Regions from separate parts of the Homo sapiens genome. Here regions 2 and 3 are each linked to region 1. The links come from fine-mapping of genetic effects on gene expression. A gene starts in region 1. Each other region holds a variant in brackets. All regions are shown on one strand. Distances are between the middles of the regions. Region 1 holds the start of POU2F1 (POU class 2 homeobox 1). Region 2 overlaps POU2F1 (POU class 2 homeobox 1). Region 3 overlaps POU2F1 (POU class 2 homeobox 1).

Evidence for each region. PIP is the estimated chance that this variant, and not a neighbour inherited with it, causes the effect.
Region 2: its variant is the best candidate, but not a certain one, in a credible set for the expression of POU2F1 in whole blood (TOPMed, PIP 0.74).
Region 3: its variant is the best candidate, but not a certain one, in a credible set for the expression of POU2F1 in whole blood (INTERVAL, PIP 0.69).

Annotation. Positions count from the first base shown.
Region 1 is chr1:167,216,336-167,224,518 of GRCh38, forward strand. It overlaps POU2F1 (POU class 2 homeobox 1), which reads left to right and starts at 4,551. Exons shown (of 16, transcript NM_002697.4): 1 at 4,551-4,623. The coding sequence starts at 4,563. It overlaps POU2F1-DT (POU2F1 divergent transcript), which reads right to left and starts at 4,201. Exons shown (of 1, transcript NR_185889.1): 1 at 3,496-4,201. RefSeq lists enhancers at 4,134-4,243, 5,774-5,953 and silencers at 4,424-4,523, 4,874-5,023, 5,244-5,523, 5,534-5,713.
Region 2 is chr1:167,390,898-167,399,080 of GRCh38, forward strand. It overlaps POU2F1 (POU class 2 homeobox 1), which reads left to right. Exons shown (of 16, transcript NM_002697.4): 10 at 5,389-5,530; 11 at 7,097-7,236. Among named protein-coding and RNA genes, the nearest start is that of CD247, 120 kb to the right of the region's middle. The variant G/A (reference allele first, on the strand shown) is at 4,788.
Region 3 is chr1:167,420,114-167,428,296 of GRCh38, forward strand. It overlaps POU2F1 (POU class 2 homeobox 1), which reads left to right. Exons shown (of 16, transcript NM_002697.4): 16 at 1-7,227. Among named protein-coding and RNA genes, the nearest start is that of CD247, 94 kb to the right of the region's middle. RefSeq lists enhancers at 4,136-5,106, 5,107-6,077. The variant T/C (reference allele first, on the strand shown) is at 3,778.

The sequences.
Region 1 (8,183 bases):
TGGCACTTCAAGGCCCAAGAACACTGCAGGTATTTCAGTCTTCACATCTGCATTCTGGGCAGCAGGAAGACAAAAAAAGGAGGAAGAATAAACTTGCTTGTTTTATTTTTTTGAGACAGAGTCTTGCTCTGTCGCCCAGGTTGGACTGCAGTGGTGAGATTAAGGCTCACTGCAGTCTTAACCTTCCAGGCTCAAGTGATCCTCCCACCTAAGCCTCTCAAGTAGCTGGGACTACAGGCATGTGCCACCACATCCAGCTAATTTTTATATTTTCTGTAGAGTCACAGTCTCATATGTTGTCAGGGCTGGCCCTGAACTCCTGGCCTCAAGCAATCCTCCCGCCTCGGCCTCCCAAAACTTGCTTCTTGAAAAAGCATTCCCAGAAATCCCACCAAATTAACTCTTTATAATTCAATAGTCAAAATTTTGTCACACATGGCCACACCTAGCTGCAAGGGAGCCTGTGTGTTGCACTTTAGCAAGACAGATGGAACACATTCCTGTTGACACTTTAGGGCTGTTACTAAGGAACATTCATCCAGTAATGGTAACAGCTAGGCAGAAGTAACCACCACTCCCCTGCACTACTGTGCCATGTGTGTATTTTACTATATGTACAGATTTGTGTTACCACTACCATACTCAGGATACAGAACAACTCCATTAACCACCCCCCTCCTCCAAACTTCCCTTGTGCCTATCCCTTATAATCACATCTTCCCCTGTAACTATCTCCTGGCAAACACTGATCTGTTTTCCATCACTATAGTTTTGTTATCTCATTAATGTCATACAGATGGAACCATATAGTACATGGTATATAACCTTTTGAGACTGGCCTCTTTCAGTCAGCATAATGCCTTTGAGATTCATTGAAGTTGTTGTATATGATAGTAGTTCATTCTTTTCAATTGCTGAGTAGTATTCCATGGTATGAATGTTTTATTCATTCATATGAAAAACATTTGAATTGTTTCTACTTTTTGGCAATTATAATAGTTGCTATTTGTTTCTAAGTGAAGTTAAGTTCTCATCCACATATACCTTTTTATTTGTATTTATTTATTAAAATCATTTTTTTGAGACAGAGTCTCACTCTGTCACCCAGGTAGGAGTGCAGTGGCACCATCATAGCTCACTGCAGCCTCGAACTCCTGCCCTCAAGCAGTCCTCATCCCTCACCTCAGCCTCCCAAGGAGCTAAGGAGCTGGGACCATAGGTGTGTGCCACCACACCCACCTTAACTTTTGGCTTTTTGTAGAGACAGGGACTGTGTTGCCCAGGTTGGTCTTGAACTCCTGGTGTCAAGCAATCCTCCTGCCTCAGTCTTCCAAAGTGGTAGGATTTTAGGTGCAACTACTGCACCTGGCCTACATTTTTATTATGACATTATATACAAGGACATTGTTTGTTAATGTGTTGTTCCCTTCCTATACTGAACTATATGTACCCATATGGTTTAATCTGTGACCCCACCAAATCTCATGTCAAATTATAATCCCCAATTTTGGTTGTGGGGCCTGGAGGGAGGTGATTGGATCATGGGGGTGGATTTCCCCCTTGCTGTTCTGGTGACAGTGAGTTCTCATGAGATCTGGTTAAGTGTGTATCTCACAGCTTGTGGAACTGTGAGCTAATTACACCTCTTTGTAAATTACCCCATCTCAGGTATTTCTTTATAGCAGTGGAAGAACAGACTAATACAGAGGTGTCTGGATCATTGGGGTAGATTTCTCATGAATGGTTTAGCACCATCGCCTTGGTGCTGTCCTCATGACAGTGAGTTCTTGTAAAAGTGTGTGGCACCTGCCCCCCTACCCTTTCTCTTGCTCCTGTTCTCCTGTGTGATGTACAAGCTCCTGCTTGGCCTTCACCACGACTGTAAGCTTCCAGAGTCTTCCCCAGAAACATAGTCCTTCCCAGTGCTATGCTTCCTGTATAGCCTACAGACCCATGAGTCAATTAAACCTCTTTTCTTGTAAGTTACCAAGTGTCAGGTATTTCTTTATAGCAATGCACGAACAGTCTAATACATGTACCTCCAAGATTTTGCCTGACCCAAAGCAAATAACTTAGTGTAGTGGTTAAGAGTACGGTCCCTTGCCTGTGTTTGAATTTTAGCTCTAACACTTAATAGTGGTGTGACACTGGGCAAGTTACTTGACATCTCTATGCCTCAATCTTCCCATCCTAGATAACTGGGATAAAGAGTTTCTACCTCCCAGGGTATTGTAAGGGTTTTTTTTTTTCTTTTTTAAAGTGATATATGTGAGTTTGCTGAGGTTAAAGTAGTGTCTTACACATTTTCCTATCTTTAGCACCTAGTAAGTTCATGAGAATGCAGATGTTTACAATTTTTTATTGAATAAATGACATTAATTTTACAAATAATCCTAACATACATAACTGTATATTCACTATTTTTCTTCAACAAATATGAACACCTACTATGCCCAGGCATTGTGCTAGGCACTGGGGACAGCTGGAAACATAAATAACTCATTAGGAGGAAAATGAAACTTTGATACAGTCTATTTTAAGCTATTTTTGTTCTCACAGAACTATCCTTCCTTAAATAAAAATCCTTTCCATGAAAATTTCCTTTTATAGAAGTGAAACAGTAAAGAATGCATAACACATACACTAGCTTCAATGACTTTCCGAAGGTCATATTAATATACTTTTTGAACCAAAGAGCAAAACTAGGATTAAATAGAAGACAGGAAATTAAATGAGGGTATTTGAGCTCTTTTTCTTAATGGAGATGATTTCAAATTTGTGGTCCCCAGAGCAGGGGCATGTACTTAACTATTTCCAATAAGGTTGTCAATTCTGAGACTTCCCTTACAGTAATGCTGGTGAAAATAACTTAGGCCATATTTCCAGATTAACTAGTTAAATATTTCATTTCCTTAAGTGTGCTGGTTGGCGTGGCTCTAAATAATTAGATTACAGGGCGGTCTAATTATTTGGTTCAAACAGTCATGCACACACCCTAAGGCTTAATTACCACGAACAAATCAATCCCACCCCCAAATCGTTGCCTGTCACTGACAATAGCTTTAACTGTACTTGCACAGTTAAAGGAGTCCAACGAGCATTCTAGGACTGATGATTAAAACTTTACCCATTAAAATAATTGCACTCACTTGGAAATCAGTTTTGTTTTTAATTGTAGAACCAGCAGTTCTACCCAATTTAAACTTCAGTCATATCTCTCAAGACAGATTAACTAGAGCTGATTTTTTTTAAACTTTGCTTACCATGAAATACACCTTTCTATTCTTAAAAAACAAACAAACAAACAAAAATAGGGCTTTAAAAATTCGTAAAATAATTAGACCTGGGACTTTGTCCAGGGAATTTCGCCATTTAAGATAAAGAAAACTCAGCAACATTATGTCTAGTTACCAAGAAAGATATGTGCAACGCGAAACCTTTCCCCAATACCATATTTACTCTGAGAAACACAGCAAAATAAAATTCACGATGAAGTTACGATTTCGACATTTTTATTAGTCATCAGCTTACTGCTAGGTTTTAAAAGGTGTTCCAAGGCGGGAAGAAGGCGCGGGGGGAAGCCTCAGAATATGGGGTCTGTTTCGATTGGGGGGAGCGGCGTTAGAGGGGCGTGAAGGCAGAAAGGAAGGGTAGGGCGGAAATTAGCGACTTAATAAGACGCCTAGCTCCCGAGGAAGCCAGCCTGGCGTTAGAAGCAAGTAGAGCAGAAGAGATTTAGGGCTAATTAAAACAATCACACGACACTCCCCCTCGCGTTTGCCGGGGCCGGGTCTCCTGCACTAGCAGAGCCGGGGGCGGGGATTAGCTCGGATTCAAATTTAAAGCGGGAGGCCCGCGTGTGGCTCAGCAGGTGCCTCATGCCCGGCTCCCGTGGCGGTCGTTTCCGCCCCTACCTGCCCAGAGGGCCGGAAATTACCTAGCGAGGAGCGGCTTATCCATTGTTGCCAATGTTTCAACTGCGCGGAAACCCTGAAGAAAGTGCGGAGCACAGGGCACGCGGGCCGCTCACTGCCCTTCCACGCGCCCCCACGTTTCTGGCCGCTGCGCTCCTTGCCGTGCTTTTACAATGCCACAGGCCACTGGGGGAGACCGGAGCGAAGCCAGGAGGGAAGCAAGGCGGGAGGAAAAGGGAGAAGTGTAAGAAGACACAGGCGCCCGGGATACTATATAATCTGGTTCTGAGCTAGAGGGAGCGCATGCGCCGGCGACACTTCTGGCGGCAGGAGAAAGGCGCGCATGCGCAGAGCCGAGACGAAAAATGAAGCCACAGGGTGCCTGGCTGATTGAGGGCGCTGCTTTAGCTACCGAAGGGCCACAGCGCCCCGAAGGCGCGTGCGCAGAGCGCGGGAAGGGGGTGGAGCTCTTCTGAGGGGGCCGGGGCGAACAGAGCCGGCCTCGCGCGCCCCCTGGCGCGCGCCCGGGGAGAGGAAGGAGCGGGAGGGGGCGGAGAGGAGGGAGGAGGCAAGCAGGGCGGGAGGGGGGAGGGGAGCCAGAGCGAGGGAGGGTTTATCGACCGGGCGATTTTGGTTAAAATATTCAAAATGGCGGACGGAGGAGCAGCGAGTCAAGATGAGAGTTCAGCCGCGGCGGCAGCAGCAGCAGGTAATCATTACAGCATTTTACATATTCATATTCATACTCAACCCCGGCTCCCGCTGCCCCCCCCCGCGACTTAGCATAATTTATTAGTACTCAGGATTATTATAATTAACGGCGGGGAGATGGGGGGCCGGGGAGCATTGAGCCCCCGCCGGGCGCTGAGCGGAGGGGGAAAGAGGCTCGGAGCGGCCAGGCGGAGGGGGAAGACAAGGGGCAAAGGGGGCTGCGATCCACTGCCCTCCTCCTGCACCCGGCCCACCCCGCCGCCGCTCGCCGTCTGCCCGTCGGCACCGGCCCTCCTCCTCTGCCGGCCGCCGCTGCCGCCTCCTCGCCGCCGTGCCCGAACCCGAGCGGGTCCGCGGCGGGGCGGCGGGGCCGGGGCAGAGGGAGAGGACAATAAAGACATTTTACATATTCATAGCTGCTGGGCCGGCGGGGCGCAGTAGGGCGCGGGCGGGCGGCCGGGGCCGGGCGGGCGCGGGGTGGGGGGCGTGAAGGGGGATGGAGGCGGCGGCGAGCACAATGCCGGGGAGGCGGCGGGGCCGGAGCGGACCCCGGCGGCCGGACACCCGCACGCGTCTTCCCCCGGGAGCGGGCCCGGGCGGGGGGGCGCTGCCCGCCTTGGGGGGCGGCCCTCAGGGCAACCGGGGGTGCGCGCGGGGAGAGCTCCCTGCCCGCGCCCCGCGCGGGGCTGAGCCCGGGGGTCACGGCCCCAGGCACTTCGGCCTCGCCCCACTGGTCCCCAATGTGGTGGCCTGACCCAAGCCAGGCCTGCTCTCTAGGTGGGTAGGGGTGAGCGGTCGTGGGCGCTGCGAGGTGGCCTGGGGCGGCGGGGGTGGGGAACCCGCGCAGGGGTCTGCGTGCCCCCCCTGGGGGGTGGACTGGATTGGAAGGAGTCCTTGGGGCAAGTTCCTTCCGAGGGGATGTCCTCTGGGGCGGCCCGCGCGCCCCCGGCCGGCGGTCGGCAGCCCCTTTGCGTTGTCGGCCGGGGCTTCGCGGGCGAGTTGGGCTGGAGGTGCCTGGCGTGGTCTGACCTCCGTCTCCCTTTGCCCCTCCCCGCTGCCCCCCCTCCGTTCCCCCCACCCCCTGCGCCTGACCGGGACGCACGGGGCGGGTGGCCCTCCGGGGCCTCTCGCTCCGAGGCCCCAGAAGCGCCCAGAGGCCTCCCGAGAACTTGGATGTAAAGGGCTGCCCTCCTGCCCCAGAATGGGCTGGCCTGACAAGTTGATCGTATTCTCGATTTCCTCTCTCCTGTTGGGAGTCGGTGGGGAGGGACGGGGATCCCCCTCCCTTCTTCTGTGGCGGTGTTTTCTCGCTGTGTGCTGGGTCGTCTTTACTCTCTGCTTAGCTGAACCTCTTCTCATTTGAATAATGTCTAATTCGGGGAGGTTTATATTATTGAAATGGCCGCCTGGCTTTCCCCGCCTCTCATGTTTAGTAATTCAGACCTTTAATAACAGCCACTCACAGCCCAACGCCGTGTTTATATTTTACATTCGCCCCATGTGCTTTTGTGGTTCGATATGATTTTTTTTTTCCTTGGCAATCCGCAGGGCTCTGAGATCAAACCCAGGCCGTGCTGGGAAGAGAGGGGGGAAGCTGGGCCTTGGCTTCTCTAGCAGTTGCCTAGGCCTCATGTTCTCTGCTGCTTGATTTATTTACTAATAACCAAAATGACTACCTCCACCAACTTCCACACACTTTCCCCTCCTCTGCGGGCAAAACAAACTCTCTTGGGGCTTTACTAGCATTAAAACAGGTCCTAGCTAAGTATCAACTCTGTGATGGTTTGTTTTCTCTTAAAAAGACTTTCTTATACTTTGCAGTAGTATTGGGCCTAGGGGGAAAAATCTGTCCTGTATTTTATTTTCAGAGCCTATGAAATCTATTTTGGTTTAATCCAAATCACTTTGTTTTGGGGATGGGTACCCCGGTTGCTCCCCACCCCCATGTTAAATACTTTAAGGCTTTGTAAAGGTCTGTAGTATTTGTAAAACTGACACTTTTTTTTTCCTCTAGGAGTTGTGGAGTAGCTAAATATTAGAAATTCCAATTAACAACAGTTTCATAATTTCTTGGTGTGGTGCTACCTTTCTGACATCTTCATTCTAATTTAAAATGGAGCTGACGTTAATTTTGTGCTATCATTGTCATAGACTTGCTTATTTTAATTGTAGCACTACTGAAAACAAAAAAATGGGGTTATGTTTTCTTTGAGTATTTGTGTCATGATTAAATGAGTGAAAAGAGAAGAATAAACATAGGCATTGCGTTTACCCTGATCTTGGAACTTATTCTCCTCCCAGCACACCCGCCCCTCCTCTTTAAGTTGTCAGAATTGATGTTATGTTTTATCTAGACTTAGGACAGTTGGCTTGTGAGAGGCAGATTAACTTTTACTGTTTAGAGGAAACAGTAATTTTGATTTTTGGTCTTTCCTGTGGTAAAATTTTCTTTTAACATTTTTATTTTGTGTAGGGGTGTGTGTGAGTGTGAGTGTGACTAGTGTTGCCTGTCACTGGTGGATGTTTACCGCTGCGTAGTCGAGGGAAGTATTAGAGGAGTGGGGTTTAACACTAATGTGTTAAACCTTTGAAATTATGTTAAGACATTTTGGTGAGTGGCTAGCTATGTATTTTGTGGGACTTTGGTCTTCAGTTTAATTTGTAACAAAATTCTAGGTTTGATGGATTAAACGCAAGCTAATTTCAGATAACCAGTTCTCACCATTTTTCTTCTTTCACTCACAGTAGGCAGGCCCTGAATGCAGCAGGAAAAAAAAAAATCTGTAGCTTTTAAGAGAACCTTCAGGTGAATGACTGCTTCAGAGACCTGAAGTATGAGGTCAGATGGACAAAAAGCAGCAATATAATTTCATGCCTTAAATAGCATATGTTTTTGCACCCGATTCCCAAGATGTGGTCAAACTGATGATGTCATTGGACAGAGGACAAGGTGCAGTTAATTTGATTTATTGTCCTGAGGTGAAGTGTAGCAGTGAAGCCTTCTCATAGGGAAACCATTTATTTCGGGTCAATTTCCTTTATAGCTGCAATTTAATCACTACTGAGGCCGTAGATATTTTATACAAAATGATAAAATGTACATTGGATTTTACAAGCAAAATTTCGCTGTTACAGTTTTTGTAATACAGAAAAGGATGGATGTTGTTAACTGGCCTTATATTTTGGTTCACTTTTAATGCTATTGTAAAAATTCATTTCCTCAAAATTCTCAAATGGAGTATTTGGGTTTTAGATAGATAGTCATAGAAGTGACCCATATAAATGTTTGTTGTGATCCCCCAGACTTTTATAAGAAACTGTGTTTCTTAATCAGAGCATGGCTTAGGCTAATGGAGAGACCATTTGCCTTAGAATCCATTTCAGTGAATAAAGCAGAGTTGAGAATGAGGGCTGTGTATTCTTTAAGGTGGAAATGATAATGTTGAAAATAAGGTAGAATACTCACAGGAAAGCATGTGCTTTTAAAACAGATTTTTTAAAAAAAATTCAGAATTCTTTTTGGATTTATCTTAGTCTGGACAAGTTTGTTCATTTTGT
Region 2 (8,183 bases), 170 kb after region 1:
CTAAAACCAGTTAATCGAGCAAGAATCTATAGAAGATGAAAACCCCAAATTAACCAAAATCCAAATTAATTTCCTGGAATTTGTCAGCTAACCGAGGACTTTTAAAGAAGGGTGAATATATTTAATGGTTTAAACAGTTGTCTGGATATGTAGCATTTTTGTTTGTTTTAAGCACTACCACTGACTTACTCTTTGATTAACCTGTCATAAATAATATATTTTTTTAGAGACAGGGTCTCGCTATGTTGGCCAGGTTGGTCTTGAACTCTTGGCCTCAATCAACCCTCCCGCCTTGGCCTCCCAAAGTGCTAGGATTACAGGTGTGAGCCACTGCGCCCAGCCTGCAAATAATACTTTTAAAGCAGGCAAGGAATTAAACTGAATGAAATTTATGTAAAATGGTATAAGATCATTAGGTAAAAAAAAACTGAAGTATGGATTAGACTGGGTGCCTTTATGGAATCAGGAGAAATCTGTTATTTTCTTTCCAGGGAATATAATTTAAAGTTTTTAAGCCACTAGTTAAATATTACTCAAATTATTTTGTGTTGAAAGTACGGTAATGCTCCACCTGGCCTGGTAGGTCAAAATCCAAGGGTAGCATCCCCAAATGTACTATGGGTGTTTTTAAGAACACATTTATATATATCTTTATATATATCTTTTTTTTTTTTTTTTTTTTTTTTTTTTGAGACAGGGCCTTGGTCTGTCACCCAGGCTGGAGTACAGTGGCATGATCACGGCTCACTGCAGCCTTGACCTCCAGGGGTCAAGGGATTCTCCCACTTCTGTCTCCTGAGTAGCTGGGACTCAGGCACACCACCACACCCGGCTAATTTTTGTAGAGACAAGGTCTTGTCATGTTGCCCAAGCTGGTCTCGAACTCCTGGGCTCAACCAAATCCACCCACGTCAGCTTCCCAAAGTGCTAAGATTACAGGTGTGAGCCACCAGGCCCAGCCCAGGCTTATATTTCTTTGGGAATTCATTTTTGCTCAAAGAAATCAATTGTGTTGGGGAATATGTAATGATTTTTTAAATAGGCATGATTTTAGAGGAAATACAGTTACATTTGTGAGGAGTTTGACTTGTGAAGAAGCAAATTATCCAGAAACATTTTAATACTTTCAAAGCATCTTAAATGATCTGACCTGTTTTAAAAAGAAAGCTAGGCCGGGCACAGTGGCTCACACCTGTAATCCCAGCACTTTGGGAGGCCGAGGCAGGTGGATCACCTGAGGTCAGGAGTTCAAGACCAGCCTGGCCAACATGGCGAAACCCCGTCTCTACTAAAAAATACAAAAATTAGCCGGGCGTGCTGGCGGGCGCCTGTAATCCCAGCTAATCAGGAGGCTGAGGCAGGGACAGTGGCTTCAACCTGGGAGGTGGAGGTTGCAGTGAGCCAAGATCACGCCACTGCACACCAGCTTTGGGGGTGACAGAGCCAGACTCTGTCTCAAAAAAAAAAAAAAAGAAAGAAAGAAAGCTAAACATAGAACTAGATTGATATGAGTAAGTTACAAAGCTGAAATAAGTATAAGGTTAGCATATTTAGCAGTGCCTCAAGTTTTAAACTATTAGCACAGCATACTCTGGGGTTCCCTGAGAGATTGTTGCGTAAGTGATATGCCAAAGATGTTAAGGCTTTTAAAAATCCTTATCTTTTACTCAAATAGTGGTTTGCCTTTCTGCATTTGACCCAACATATTGCCAGTGTTATGTTTTTCTCTCCCTCCGCACATCTCTCCAGGTAAAGGAGCTTCCCTATGGTCTGGTGTTTTGTTTTGTGGTTTTATCCTATTTTTTGGCATGACCATTCCTTATTTTTCGAAATGACTTTGAGACAGCAGTGGCAATGGTTCACAAACTTGGACTATGTGGGTTAAAGTACATACTACTGCTGCAGAATGGAAAATCAGTCTATCAACCTCTGTTTTTAAGTCAGATACTTCAATTTTAGTTATTCAAAGGTTGCTCTGTGTCCAATTTATTTATATACACACACAAAGTTTTAGCCATTAAAGTTATTTGCTGAAACAAAAAAAGCTCTATTCTCTGTGTAAATATACACATTATTAGATGTTTTAAAGTTATTTTCTAATTTCATAATTGCTTATTAAAGGATTACCATGGCTGTCTTTGCATAATTAGAAAACATGTCATAGCATAATACATTTATCACATGTGGTACATTCATTATTTCCCAGTCTCAGTTTTTGTTCCTTTTTTGTTATGTTCTTTTTAAAAATATCAAAGGGATATAATATAGTTAAGATTATATATGAATCGACTACTTAAAACATTTACTTTTGTGAGTGATAACCCAAGATGGTTGTGAGTTGGATTATCACGAAAGAGCATTAAACCAAGCCTGTACCGAATTAATGAAAATTAGTATGTTAACTGAGGAGTCTGTTGCTTTTTATTCAATTAAGCAATTTAAATGTGAAATAAAACATATTAATAAATGATAAAGTGAGTTTATTATTTATTATCATGGTTCTAGTTAGTGAATGGCATAGCTTTATTTCCAGCCACCACCTTAAAGTATCATTTCTTATAATTACTGTCATGATTTTTTAATATATATTTTATTTACTTATTTATTTATTTTTTTTAGAGAGAGGGTCTCACTCTCTTGGCTCTGGCTGGAGTGCAGTGGCACAATTATAGCTCACTGCAGCCTCAAACTTCTGGGGTCAAGTGATCCTCCCACCTCAGCCTTCCAAGTATCTGGGACTACAGGCACATGCACCACACACAGCTAATTTTTTTGTGTTTGGTAGAGATGGGGCCTTCTGTTTCCAAGGCTGTTGACTTATTTTTTGCTTGTTAAATTGTTACTTTTATAATAAGACAGAAGTTTGTGAAAATTTGTAGCTTATTGTGCAGTTACTATGCCAGAAAACACTTATTGCCATCTAACTGCTACATAAGTTTATATACTCAAAGAATTGCAAGGTTTAGTTGGCACCAGCTGTAATCTAAACAAGCTGACCATGACATGAATATATGTGATACACAATGCATAAGTTCAATGCTTGACATATAGTAGGCACTTAGTGAATATTTGATTGAATGAAGTAACATTTTATTTTATTTTATTTTATTTTATTTTATTTTATTTTATTTATTTTTTTGAGACAGAGTCTCACTTTGTCACCCAGGCTGGAGTGCAGTGGCATGATCTCGGCTCACTGCAACCTCTGCCTCCCAGGTTTCAAGCAGTTCTCGTGCCTCAGCCTTCTGAGTAGCTGGGATTACAGGGGTGTGCCACCACACCCAACTAATTTTTGTATTTTTAACAGAGACGGGGGTTTTGCCATGTTGGCCAGGCTGGTCTCGAACTCCTGACCTCAAATAATCCACCCGCCTGGGCCTCTTAAAGTGCTGGGATTACAGTTGTGAGCCACCGTGCCCTGCCTGAATGAAGTAACATTTTAATAAATATATAGAGATACAGGTATAGATAAACATAATCATCTGTGTCTTTAGACATATTTGTATACAGTATAATGGATAGCATTTATGCCCTGCTCACCACTGATTCTGATTCTTGCAGTTTTATGGTAATTGGAATGAAATCAATAAACAGTCTACTTCAGTATATTCAGAACTGTCATTAAAACTTTCTGTGATGATGGGGTGTTCTGTACATTGGACATGGGATGTCCAATACAATAGCCACTGTCTACTTATGGCTATTGAGCACTTGGAAGGGCTAGTGATGCTGAAGAACTGAATTTTTAATTTATTGGGTTTTAATTAATTTAAATAGCCACTTGTGGCTGGTGGCTATATGGGAAGGCAGAGGATATCAATCACTTGAAGTTCAGGTATTCTGGGTGCCTCATTTTGTCTTACATTTCAATATTTCTCATCTGTTAAACTTTTTATCAGAAGTTGCTCACCAAAAAGAAAATGGGGTTTTAAAAATATGTTACTTTTTTAACCCAACTACCACCTAATAAAAAATGTAGTATTCAATGTGCTAATAAAAAATGTAGTGTTCAAAAGATGGATTTAGGGGTAGGGGGGAATCAAAAGACTGGGATAATCCCAGTTCAAACAAGTGTTGCCAGGATAGTTGAGAGTTGGCTGTCTCATAGTAGGATTAGTTGTATAGTACTTTGGACCAGAAATGATGTTGCCTTTCTGCCCTGTCACTAAACTAATTGAAATGAATGGGTGAATCATTTAAACTCCGTGAGCCTCTGTTTCCTGTATATAAAGCAACTATCTTACGCTTTTTTCCCAGTTTGATCAAGAGAGATTCAGCAAGAAGAAAAGCTCTGTATACATTTCAAAGGTTATAGGCTTATAGAGAAAGACATCTTTTGTAATATATTCAGGGCATCATTGTTCTATTGCTATAAGGTTACTAAGTTTCCATTGCCCATGAAGGTTTGACTAAATGGGTCAAACCTCTCTACTGTGAATTTCTATTTCTATGATGGTTACAAAAGTAGTCTTTTAGAATACCTGTTTTTTGTAACTAACTTTGAAATCCAAACTAGGAGTGAAAATAGATTTTTTTTTCACTGCGTCCAGAAATACTTGATAGGGAAAAGAAGAAAAGAGATGATTTCTAATTTTTAAAGTGATTTTTGGGAAGTTTGATTAGTTCGTAAATATCTTGGGTTATCTAGAGAGTTATACATAATATCTGTAGGTGATACAGATAAATTTATTTTTATTTTTCTTTTTTAAATTTTTTTCTTTTTTTGAGACAGGATCTCGCTCTGTCACCCAGACTGGAGTGCGGTGCCATGATCACGGCTTGCTACC[G/A]CCTTGACCTCCTGGGCTCAAGCGATCCTTCCACCTCAGCCTCCCAAATGGCTAGGACTACAGGCACACGCCACCATACCTGCCTAATATTTGTATTTTTTGTAGATGTTTTGCCATGTTCTCCAGGCTGGTCTGGAAATCCTGGGCTCAAGCATTCCACCCATGTAGGCCTAGGCTTCCCAAAATGCTGGGATTAAAGGTGTGAGCCACTGTGCCCAGACCAGATAAATACATTTTTAAAAATTACTTAAATCACTTTGGTTGTATCAATTAAGGGGCTTGTTAGAATATTAGCACTATTTTTGATACCTAGTTGAAATTTTGGTATCTCCATGATTACATAAGGTGGCAAGAAGAGATTCAAAATGGGAAAGTATGTGGGACAGTATTGAACATTGTAACGATCAGGCCTAAAAGAGTCCTCACAGTAACACTGTGACTGGCTTAGGGATGGAGTTTATGTGGGACCCCGTAAGTGGAATAATTACTGACTCCTTGTCTAAAGCAGTTATTGGAGCAACACCCCAGAGTGAAGGCTTTAAGCACTGGTGAGATAACTCTGTCTTTCCTCTCCTCTTCTCCTGCTCTGTATTGTGTGTAGGGTGATGTTGGGCTCGCTATGGGGAAACTATATGGAAATGACTTCAGCCAAACTACCATCTCTCGATTTGAAGCCTTGAACCTCAGCTTTAAGAACATGTGCAAGTTGAAGCCACTTTTAGAGAAGTGGCTAAATGATGCAGGTAAGTGACTGTATAAGACATTTCTTTGTCATTCATTGGAATTTTACATGGGGATTGTTATATAAATTGGGGTTTATATTTCTTACTCTATTTTTGTTGTTACAGAACCTTGAAGCTTACTAATCCTGGGAGGATCATTATAAATTATGGTGATATAAATCAGAAAGCTGATTCATTTAAATATTCTAGTAATTACAGTATAAATAATTAGCCGTAATTTTTAGCCTGAAATACTCTTGTATTTGAGCCAGGATTAGGAACACACACACACACACACACACAGTTGAAGGAATAGGATAAGTAAGGCTTTTGTATTTAGATAAGCTTGAAGTAGAAGCTTATTGTTTCTTCCTTGATGAATTATCATAGAACTTGTTCTTGCAATAGTTCTGCTTTTGTTATTTCAAATGACCACACATTTCATTCAGAAAAGTTGGACTACTAGCTTTGTCTTACGTTTTTTTGTGCTGAGAGTTCCTTTTGGAAGATTGGAATTTTGAGTCACAGGATCATAGACTATGAAAGCTGTAGGAGTCATGTAGATCCCTTAAACTATGGTTCTTATTGTAGATATGAACAAAAATTAGGCCTTTGGAAAAGACAAACCTGAAACACGCATCCTTGGACAGTTTTATTCAGTAGCTATGGGTGAGGCCTAGGCATCTGTTTCCCAAGTCCACAGATAAGAACCACTGGTTTACTGTTTCCATCTTATTTTACGTGTAGCAGAAACAAACTCAGATGTGTATGACATGCCCAAGGTTATTAAACTGTGAAATTATAGAACCCTGTGATTTAACTTCAGAGAATTTATAAATATTTCATTTGTTTCTTTTCTTTTTACCCTAGATTATACCAATAAAATGAGAGGCCATTTACAAGATAAATATTAAACGTTCAGTAATTTCTAAGAAACTTTCTTCCTTTTATCCCCAGAACTTATAAACAAACAGAACTGGAGACATAGAGCTGAGTTTAAGGATAGGAATAGTAAACCTCTTCTGTCTCAGAAACAGAAATCCAAACATAGTGGTAATATTGTCAACCATCCTAGCAGAAAGAATGCCAATAAGGGCAGCAGAAATATCCATGGTAGTAAATATATATATATTGGGGGGATGGGTGGTGGGTAGGGGGAGACATGGTCTCACTCTGTTGTCCAGGCTGGAGTGCAGTGGCACCATCTCAGGTCACTGCAGCCTCCACCTCCCAGGTTCAAGTGATTCTCCTGCCTCAGCCTCCCAAGTAACTGGGACCACAGGCGCACGCCACTGTGCCCAGCTAATTTTTGTATTTTTGGTAGAGATGGGGTTTCACCATTTAGCCAGGCTGGTCTTGAACTCCTGACCTCAAGTGATCCTCCCGCCTCAGCCTCCCAAAGTGCTGGGATTACAGGTGTGAACCACCATGCCCGGCCAATAAGCAATATTGTAATGTAGGTTATGTGAAAACCTTTTCATACTTGGATGTAGCTTATTTTGTCAGTTTTGTTGTTAATATGCATATTATGCACATGAATCACTGTGCTCAGCTAATTTTATTTCTGTATTTTCTTCATTCTTACAGAGAACCTCTCATCTGATTCGTCCCTCTCCAGCCCAAGTGCCCTGAATTCTCCAGGAATTGAGGGCTTGAGCCGTAGGAGGAAGAAACGCACCAGCATAGAGACCAACATCCGTGTGGCCTTAGAGAAGAGTTTCTTGGAGGTCAGTGAGGATTTTACTTTTCTGTACATGGGATTGTCTGTGTAGTACTTAACATTAGTACTTAGTAGAAACTGTAGGTGGTAAAAGATGACATGTCAGCCTCTGCTCTTATGGATGATTATAAATAGGTGAAGTAAGTAAGTTACTAACATAGGAGACAGAACCAGAGTTCTGCAGGGTTCAGGAGAGACTAGAATCACATCCATGCAAGCACTCAGTATGAGAGAGGTGGCAGCTTACCATAGGATACATAGGAATTAATTCCACAGACTAGAAAAGGTGGGGGGAAAGTACTTTAAGCAGAGGAAATGCATGAGCGTTTCCCCCTCAGAGTGGGGGAGAAACACTGGAGTGAGGGAAACCATAGGGTGTATGAGGAGACACTCTAGTAGATTGGTTGGTTAAATTGTAGTGTCTGTATGCCTGGAATAGTAGTTTGGGACTGGAACACTAGAGACCTTGAGTGTTAGGCTATGGAGCTTAAGTTAATGCAAGAGATATTTGGCAATTATTTTTTTGTACCAGGTAATATCATAACAAAGCTTTTAAGAAAATTTTGACTTCTCTAATTCAGAAAAGACTTGAGCACATTGGGAGGACTCTGAATTAGGAGTTTTTGTCAGCTCTGCCACTTAAACTGTGTGATTGGGCAAATCATGTGATTTCTTTAAGCTAAAGGTCCTTCATTGTGAAATACCTGCCTTTCTTACTGTGAGATCCAAATTAGATAGCATGAAGCATGGAGAAAGGTTAAATTCCTACTAATACATGTGGTTGTACTGGTATTTTGTTAATTTCATTCACAATTAATAGATCTTAAAAATGAAAAACTATAGATATTTAAGGATAACTTATCCTAAGTTAATATGAATAAGTTTAATAGGTGTATGTTCATTAGAACTTCTATCTACACAATCTCTTTGTTGAAAGTGGCCTAATGTGGATGG
Region 3 (8,183 bases), 200 kb after region 1:
CTTTTTAACTTGCTGGAAAAGTTGGATACATTGGCAAATATAGGGAATTCATGTCTTTTTTTTTTTTTTTTTTCTGGTCTTGCTCTGTTGCCTAGGCTAGAGTGCAACGGCATGATCTCGGCTCACTGCAACCTCTGCCTCCCGGGTTCAAGCAATTCTCCTGCTTCAGCCTCCCAAGTAGCTGGGATTACAGGCGCCCACCACCGCACCCGGCTAATTTTTGTATTTTTAGTAGGGACGGGATTTCTCCGTGTTGGCCAGGCTTTTTGAACTCCTGACCTTAGGTGATCTGCCTGCCTTGGCCTCCCAAAGTGCTGGGATTACAGGTATGAGCCACTGTGCCCATCCTCATGTCAATTTTTAAAGTGATAAATCCTGATATTATACATTGCAATTAGTGTAGAATAAACGCTTGGCTTATAGAACTCTCTGTTCTTAGTCTAAAGCTGTTCCCAAACCAGGTCATCCTCACGAAACATTCTTGACCAAGAAAAAAGATAAGGTCATTGAGATAGGAAGACAGAGGAAAAGCCTCTTGCTGTTGTTTCTTCCCAAGAAAGGAGAAGCCCTGCCAGGGAGAAGTCAGTAGTATTGCTGACTCACTGTATCACTGAGTGTAGGGTGTGGTAGCAAGGAGGAGGCAGGGGATTCACGCTGACAGGTGGCTCTGGCCTGGCTCTTGGGGGGCCTTCTGAAGACCAGTCTGCAGTTTGAGGAAGGGCCCCAACAATTCATTTGGAGAGCTTGGCCAAATACTTTCTCATTAAATCAGCACCTAAACTTGATGAACTTAAAGTTTGTTTATTAGAGTTGAAAACATTAAAAGATGACTGATACTAATGGGAGAAAAATACTAAAGACCCAAAATTTAAAATTTTCCAAAATGGACAAGAATTGATGGGTTAATTTGCTCATAACTGATATGAGTTTGCTTTTATGTGTGTGTGGAAAGCATTTAATGTGTGATGCTGTTCATAGTCCTGGCTATTTGATGTCATTTTCAGTTTTACAACATTTTGAGGATGACACTTTATAAAATGGTAAATCTTTCTCAGCGTTTACAAACTTGGCTTTTGAGAAGGGAAAAATCCTCTTTGCTATTTCTGTAAGAAGAATAACTGAGATCAGCTATTATATAGGTTTGCATGGATGGTGTCCACAATACAAATGTAAACTTGGACAGGAATAGGATAAATAAATTGCTTTCATCATAAAGGCCAATCATCCATTTCTTAGTCCAAGGAGATTAAATATAAATAGGACACCCCTGAGATTTCCAGTAAGGTATTTGAAAGGATTCCACTGGGAGGGCAGGGAATATATTTTTTCTCAGAGCATCCAGTTTGTACCCAGTTTTCTATATGGTTTGTGAACTGTAGCTTTTAAAAAAAAATTTTGTAGTTTTCTTCTAACCTTATTCATTAAGTAGTTCCTTGTTTTGGCCCTTCTACTCTTGGCCTTAGCTAAAAGCAGTAAATGTGAGTGAATTTTATGTTGATTATGTCACCTGGATCTCCTTTCCTTCCCTTCTTTTTCTCATTGAATGGTGGTACCTTAATTTGGGTAACAGCTAGCTTCTGGCACCTTCATAAAATACCTCAGAATAGCTTAGCATTGTTGCAAAACTGGTTTTAAACTAAAAACCAAATAAATAAGTGAAAAAATTTTATAAATAGTGGAAATAATTCTAGCTGTAGCATTTAGTTGAACTAATGTTTATTATGATCGATAAACAAGATTGATGCTGTATGTATTTGGGATCCTGTTTATAGGTTACAATTTATAGGGTTAGGGAGGGTTGGGTGGGGGAAGAGGAGATGTTGATTATGTTAGAAGGAAAACATTGCTCGTGTGTGTGTTTGTTTTTTCTTATATCTGTCTTGCCAAAGGAAACTTGATTTTCCCTGTGATTGGCTTTGGCCTCTGTGGTCTGGTCTGCAGCAGTGTGTGGTGGCATGCAGGTAACATATGGGGTGTCCAGTAGGTTCAGGGACCCTGAGGGTGCATTTACATCCCTTCCTATGGTTGCCCATGCCCCCCAGACCCTGCCAACCTCTCCTAATGATTCATTACCTCTGTACATAGCAAAAGCATAGGCAAAGGATGAATGCGTGAATGCCTGGATGTGCAGTTGAGAAACAGAGGCAGACATAGACATGCACCAATTAATTTGGAGCCAAGAGGTGAGTGATTGATGTATCTTAAATCTAGGAAAGTTAAAGTGAAACAGGTTCTTTGTGTTGCCCTCTGTCAAGTTACTGAATGTTGTGCTAATAACACAACACTTTAAAACCTTACTTACTTTTCTCATACCAAGGCTAGTTCTTTCTAGACCAAAAACACAAACAGGATAAAAAGCAAACCAAGAAGTTGAAAGCTAACCTGCCCACCTCACCCCTGTGATACAAAGTGTGAACCTTAAGGATTAGTTGGTGGGATTGAGGAGAGAATTATTCTTGGTGGGAACATGAATGAGAAATGATGCTGGCTTAGGAAAAATCACAAGCCCTTTCTGCCCATACTCTGGGACAAACTTTCTTGGCTCCCTGAGTTCGGATATAGACTGTATCTCTAGAAAGGCTATTTTTTTAAATAAATGATCCCACAGAACTTAAGTGGGATTTGGTTTAGATACCAAAGACACTGCTAATGTCATTGCTTATCCTTAAGTTTTCAAAACAGGCAGAGGGAATAGGAGCAAAAAGCCAAAATTTGGAAAAGCTTTACTTTATCTCTTTCCTTCCCTTTTCCCCTTTTCCCAGTCCCCTGCTTTTTGAAGGAAGTCTTCTTGGTTATCCTGGCTTTGGAAAAGAGATTTATTTTGTTTTGCTCTGCTGGCTCTTTAAAGATGGATAGTTGCTCAATCTAGCAGTGATGTTCTTGGAATTGCTGAGAAATTTGGGGAGGGCAAAAGATAGGGGTAGAATTTTTTCATTATTTCCCTTTATCTAATACTTTTAAATAGAACCAACACAGCCTATATGAGTTCAGACAATATTTAGATGTGGTATCTCCATCTGTCTCCTGTAAAAGATAAGAATTTTCAAGAACAGGATTACGTGGAAAACCAAAAGATCTTCCCTTACTCTCCTATAAATGTTTTGTTCCAAATGTTTTTATATATGGGCTCTAGGGAGTCAGGTAGTTCATTGTTTCGGTGTACTATTGATAGGACACAGAAAGGGAGAGAGGGTAAAGAAATGTATCACTCTCTGAATATTGCATCAAAAATGATTAGGTTGCAGAACTTCATGAAAGCTTTACTAATAATCTTATTGTTCTGACATTATGTAAAGGTGGTATTAATATTGTATGACTTGTCAAAGTGCTAGATAGGTTTATAAGTAGGTAATAGGGATGTTGAAGATTAGAGCACTTGAAACAGAAGTTCTGGGAAAACAAGGTGTGTGTAATGGAACACCACTTTGAGCACAGAAACAAAGGTCCCTTGGACCTGGTAGGGAAGATGTGATTTATGATTGTTTCTGTGTCCCTGTATCTGCCCACCCTGCACAGGGCTCCACCACCCAGGGCCACCTTCTGGTTTAAACCCAGGACACTGTCAAAAAGTTAAGACCCCAAAACTAATTTACTGTAAAAAACATTGAGGACTGCTGCAAAGTTTTCCCTTGTTTTCTTTGTGTACTTGTTCATCATTGTATAAGTTAGCCACAGCTTCACAAGAGCAGCTTAAGGCTTCTTTCATAAATTGGCAGTGGCATTGAGTTCTCAAACATTATATCCCAAAGTCTGCAGGCAGACAGCTGGATACAGCGC[T/C]GTGTATAAATGAGACGTCCAAACACTTGAGTTTCTTAAGATTGGGATCTCTTTCAAATGAAAAAGGACAGAGCCAAGTAGAGAAAAGACTTTGTGCTCCCACCCAGCCTTAATGAGTCTCATGGTCTAAAAGTATAGGAAGAAATGAAATGCACTTTCAGAAGCTAAAATGACAGTGTCTGCTACAAAAGGCTGTAGTTGTAGGCAGTCGGGGATGCCATGTCCTTGGTTCCATTCCTGCGTGAGTCTGCAGAAGGCACACACTTTGTAAGAGTAGAGTGGACTAGTGCCAGCCTGAATAGGTTTAAAACTGCAAACAGTTGGAGAACATGGAACAGGTTGGTGCAGGAAGCCTAAGATTTTGCAATCATATTATAACATTGGCTTTTGACAACATAAATGTTGTATCTTCCCTAAGGTCAGGTCGGGGAAAGAAAGACTTCCAGCTTCTTACCTCTGCGTGCATGGGCACGTGTGCATTGCTCAGTCCGCAGGAGGTCTCACTCCGCAGGAAACGCTCTCCTCCCGCATAAGTCTGTACTTCCATCCCCTCATCTGTGGTAGTAGTGAAGGCTAGGTGAGTAAGCGTGGGCTGTTCTACCCACCAGAAGTCCAGGAGCTGTTGTATACCTCATTTCTAACTCGTGACCGAGTGACTTGCTTTAACTTTCTCGAAATCCTACAGAGTTGCCAAGTCTGCCCTCCCTCCTCAGTCATGTTAAACTCTGGCCTATAGCATCATGGGACCTGTAGCCTAGGGTGGGACCCCCTAAAGCCTCTGAATGTCGCTGCTTAAAAGCTACTGCAAACTGAGGGCAAATTGCAATCTTCTATTCCTTTTTGTTGCAAGGGGTCTTCACAGGTCTCTTAACATCTGCTTTCCCTGCCACCCTGCCTTTAGGGGCTGGCCAGCTATCCACACCCCTAACCCACCCTGTGTTTCTGACAGCTGGCCACACGTCAACTTCTGTACTTGCCTTTTCCTTGGTGGGGTAGAGGCCAACCCCTTCTCCTCTGAGGCCTCAGGGTTCTGTTTCTTTTCAGGACTTTGGGTAGAAGGGAAGACACCAAAGGCTCCTTTAAGCTGACTGCTGCATACACATTTCACTTTTTTTCCTTTGACATGACCAAAAATATCCAAATATTTAAGTTTATTATTATTATTATTATTATTTGACAATCTTATATCCAATGGGCTCTCTAGAAGCTGCATCCCCAGCCCTTTCACCTTTTCTTTGAATGTAGTTCCCAACCTTCAATTCCCACCCCTAATGCTGACAAAAAGCTTAGCCAGGTCATGATACTGCTGCTATAAGCCAGGGGAGGGTGGTTTCTTTGTTTTGTTTTGTTTTGTTTTGTTTTTCAAATTTCCAGCCAAAACCAAAGATTTCTTAATGATTGTATAAACTCAAAACAAACAAAAGAACCAAAGAAAAGGGAAGTCTTCAGCATCAGTCCAGTCTGTGGTGTCCTGGCACTTAGAAGAGTGAGGCCAGGGAAGGTGGGGCGGGGGGACCCTCTGACTGGATCAGAAAGGGCAGGCAAGCTGCTTACCACCTTCCAGGGTCCAGCACAGGTGCATGCCCCTAGCTTTGGCCCTCACAAACTTGTGAGCATGCCCTGAAACAAATTGGCATTTCAGATTTTCCAAAACAAAAGTCAAAAAACCCCATCACCACCATCATCCACCCTACACCAACCAGGGTCACTATGGGGACTTAGCACAGGGCCTAGGGAGGGTGGGAGCTGCTGCTGGACTGGCCCGAGGACTCCACAGAGTGGGGGACGTTGAAGACACTGGCGCACGATTGGCTGCTCTGCTGGGTGCTTTAACCTCTGGGGCTGGGCGAATGCACGCCACGGTGCCCTTCTGAGCCTTTTTTTCTTTTCCTGTACTGGAACTGCTTGGAAGTGGCTGTCCTGTTTGTGAGAAAACATGCAGAAAGATTATCAAGCTTTTCATTTCTCTTTATTGTAGTTTTCTTTCCTTTTTGCAGCACCACTGTGCAACTATGCATTGTACTTCACAACCTTTTGTGCTAGGTAGATGCCTGTGACTTTTTAACTTGGGGGGTGGGGGGATTGCAAATGAAGGAACTTTTTACATGGATCTTTTTAATCTCAGTTGGTTGGGGGAGGGGGGTACTTGGTTCTTGGGTCACACAAGCTCTATCCCAAAGCAAAATCCAAATGTTAATAATATTAGCCTGATGCAGATACCAAAGATAATTTCTTTCCTGCAGAACCTTAGACTCGTGTATTAAGTACGATTACCCAGCACTTGCATTAGTCTAACCTCAGTAATTCCAAAGCTTAGATGTATATTTTGGTATATTTCTGGGATATTAAAAAAAAAATGTCGTTTAACTTCTTGTTTGTTTCAGTGTAATGCTCTTAAAGTCATAGCATGAAAATAATTGAACTGTCCTATTCTTAGTAGTTTGAAATAATAGTATTTTTGTATGTTTTGGGTGTGTCTATGTATGTATTAACATAACAGTTTTCACTGCCTAGGTGTTCATAATAAAAAAGAAAATGAAAAAAGTTCTGAGTGTACATAATATTCAATAATAATCTCCCACCAGGTGTCAATTTAGATTGCATATTCCTCATTACTGTTCCCAACTGGGATTTTGTTTTCTTTTAAAGAGACAGTGATCGTGTTTTTCTAAAGATGTTTTCTTTCTCTCTTTCAATATCTTAACTCACTTTTTTTTTCTTCCTTTTTTGTCTTAATTATTAATTCAGGGGTGTTTGTCCACTGTTGTCAAAGGAGGGGCACAAGGGGAATTGGCCCCCGGCCTCCTAGAACTTTTTGTTTTATGTACTTTAAAATGTGAGTTTGAGTTCTTCTTTGTGGAAACTTAAGATGTGGTGTAAATGATTCTTTCCAAAATTGTCCAGCAGCTTGAATGAGGCAGTGACAATTCTGAGGTGGTTTATTGGGAGTCCTTCTACATTTCTCTTAGATAACTCTGCACTCTGGGTGGCTATTGTGTAGCCTTACTGCCCCAGAGTGCCTGTTAGCCAAATATTTCCCCTCTGATAGGAATATTTTCTAAGAATCAGCTGATAACTTGCGTGCTGGACCTTGTTATCTGTGCCCCTGGGAGACACACGTTTTCTTGGTTTTGAAAACCTGAAACACAGGCAACTTTACATTTTGGGGAATTAGCTGATGCCTCCTGAAGCCTGAGGAGGTGGCGGGGAATATGAGCGGTGCTGTCTCTCTCAAAAGTGCCCTTTAGATGATTCCCCCTCCTAGGGCTGCCTGCAGGGGCTGTAGGCTTGGGAAAGATTGTGTAGGTGACAGTGAATCAGAATGAAGTGGTAGATTTTGTGTAGATGCATTTGTCTGCTGTAATTTTTTATATATATATTAAACTTACTGTAACTGTACAGTTCATTTCTGTTGTAAAACATCATTAAACCATCTTCCAAGTGTTTTCACATTGTTGGAGTTTCTTTGAAATTGCTGTGTTGGTATTCTGGATGCTTCACATACAGATTCTCAGACTTCGCATAATTCAGCTTCCAAATTGTTTTTTCCAAGTGCTCTCAGGAACCCCAGAATCACCATAAGCACCCTGGTTCCTGCCCCACTCCACCCTTCCTCCTGCACTCCAGGAGGAGCTATGGCCACTGCATTTCTCCCTCCCAGACCCTCAGTGTGGTTTCGTGGGACCCTGAGTAGCAGTAGTCTCCCTCAGGCCCAAGTACTTTGTGTGATCAAACACGCAGGCCCATGATTGATCCTGCAAGGGAGCTCTTCAAAGCTCCATCTCACTGTGTATTTGACTGCAGAACTGGGACCGAACTCAACTTTTTCCAAATGTATTGTTTAAACTGCACTGCCCCTCTAGCATTTCTTGCCAAGTCCTGAACATTCACTGGGTGGGGGCCGGGTGGGGGGTCCTCCGAAGGAAGGTAACCCTGAACTTGGCATCTGGTCCTCCTCCTGTTCGAGGCTGCACAACTTAGCTTCTTCAGACTTATAAATACCACTTAGCATTTAGTGTCTTACTACAATTCATTCATTTCATGAAAAGTAAAGTTTGAATTTTAAAATGAATTCCCCACAGAGAGAAGGCTTCAGCTTACTGAAGAACCTGGGGAAGTTGTCTATCACGTGCTGGCCATCTGGCAGGCATTCTTGAATTAGATGATGTGGAGAGCCGTTGTCGCAAGATGTGCTCGCTCTCCTGGAAAGGGACCAAAATGGGAAGGCAAATGGTGGGTCCCTTTCTCCCTGCTCCTTTATCATAGAATTTATATTTTTCCATTCCATTCCTTAGATATATGGCTTATGTCTCAGTTTGTAGTTATTTTCTTAAAATAATGTCAAGTTTTTAACAGAAATCCTGTTTTTGAGATAGTGTCGTGCTCACAGACTTAGCAAGCAAAAC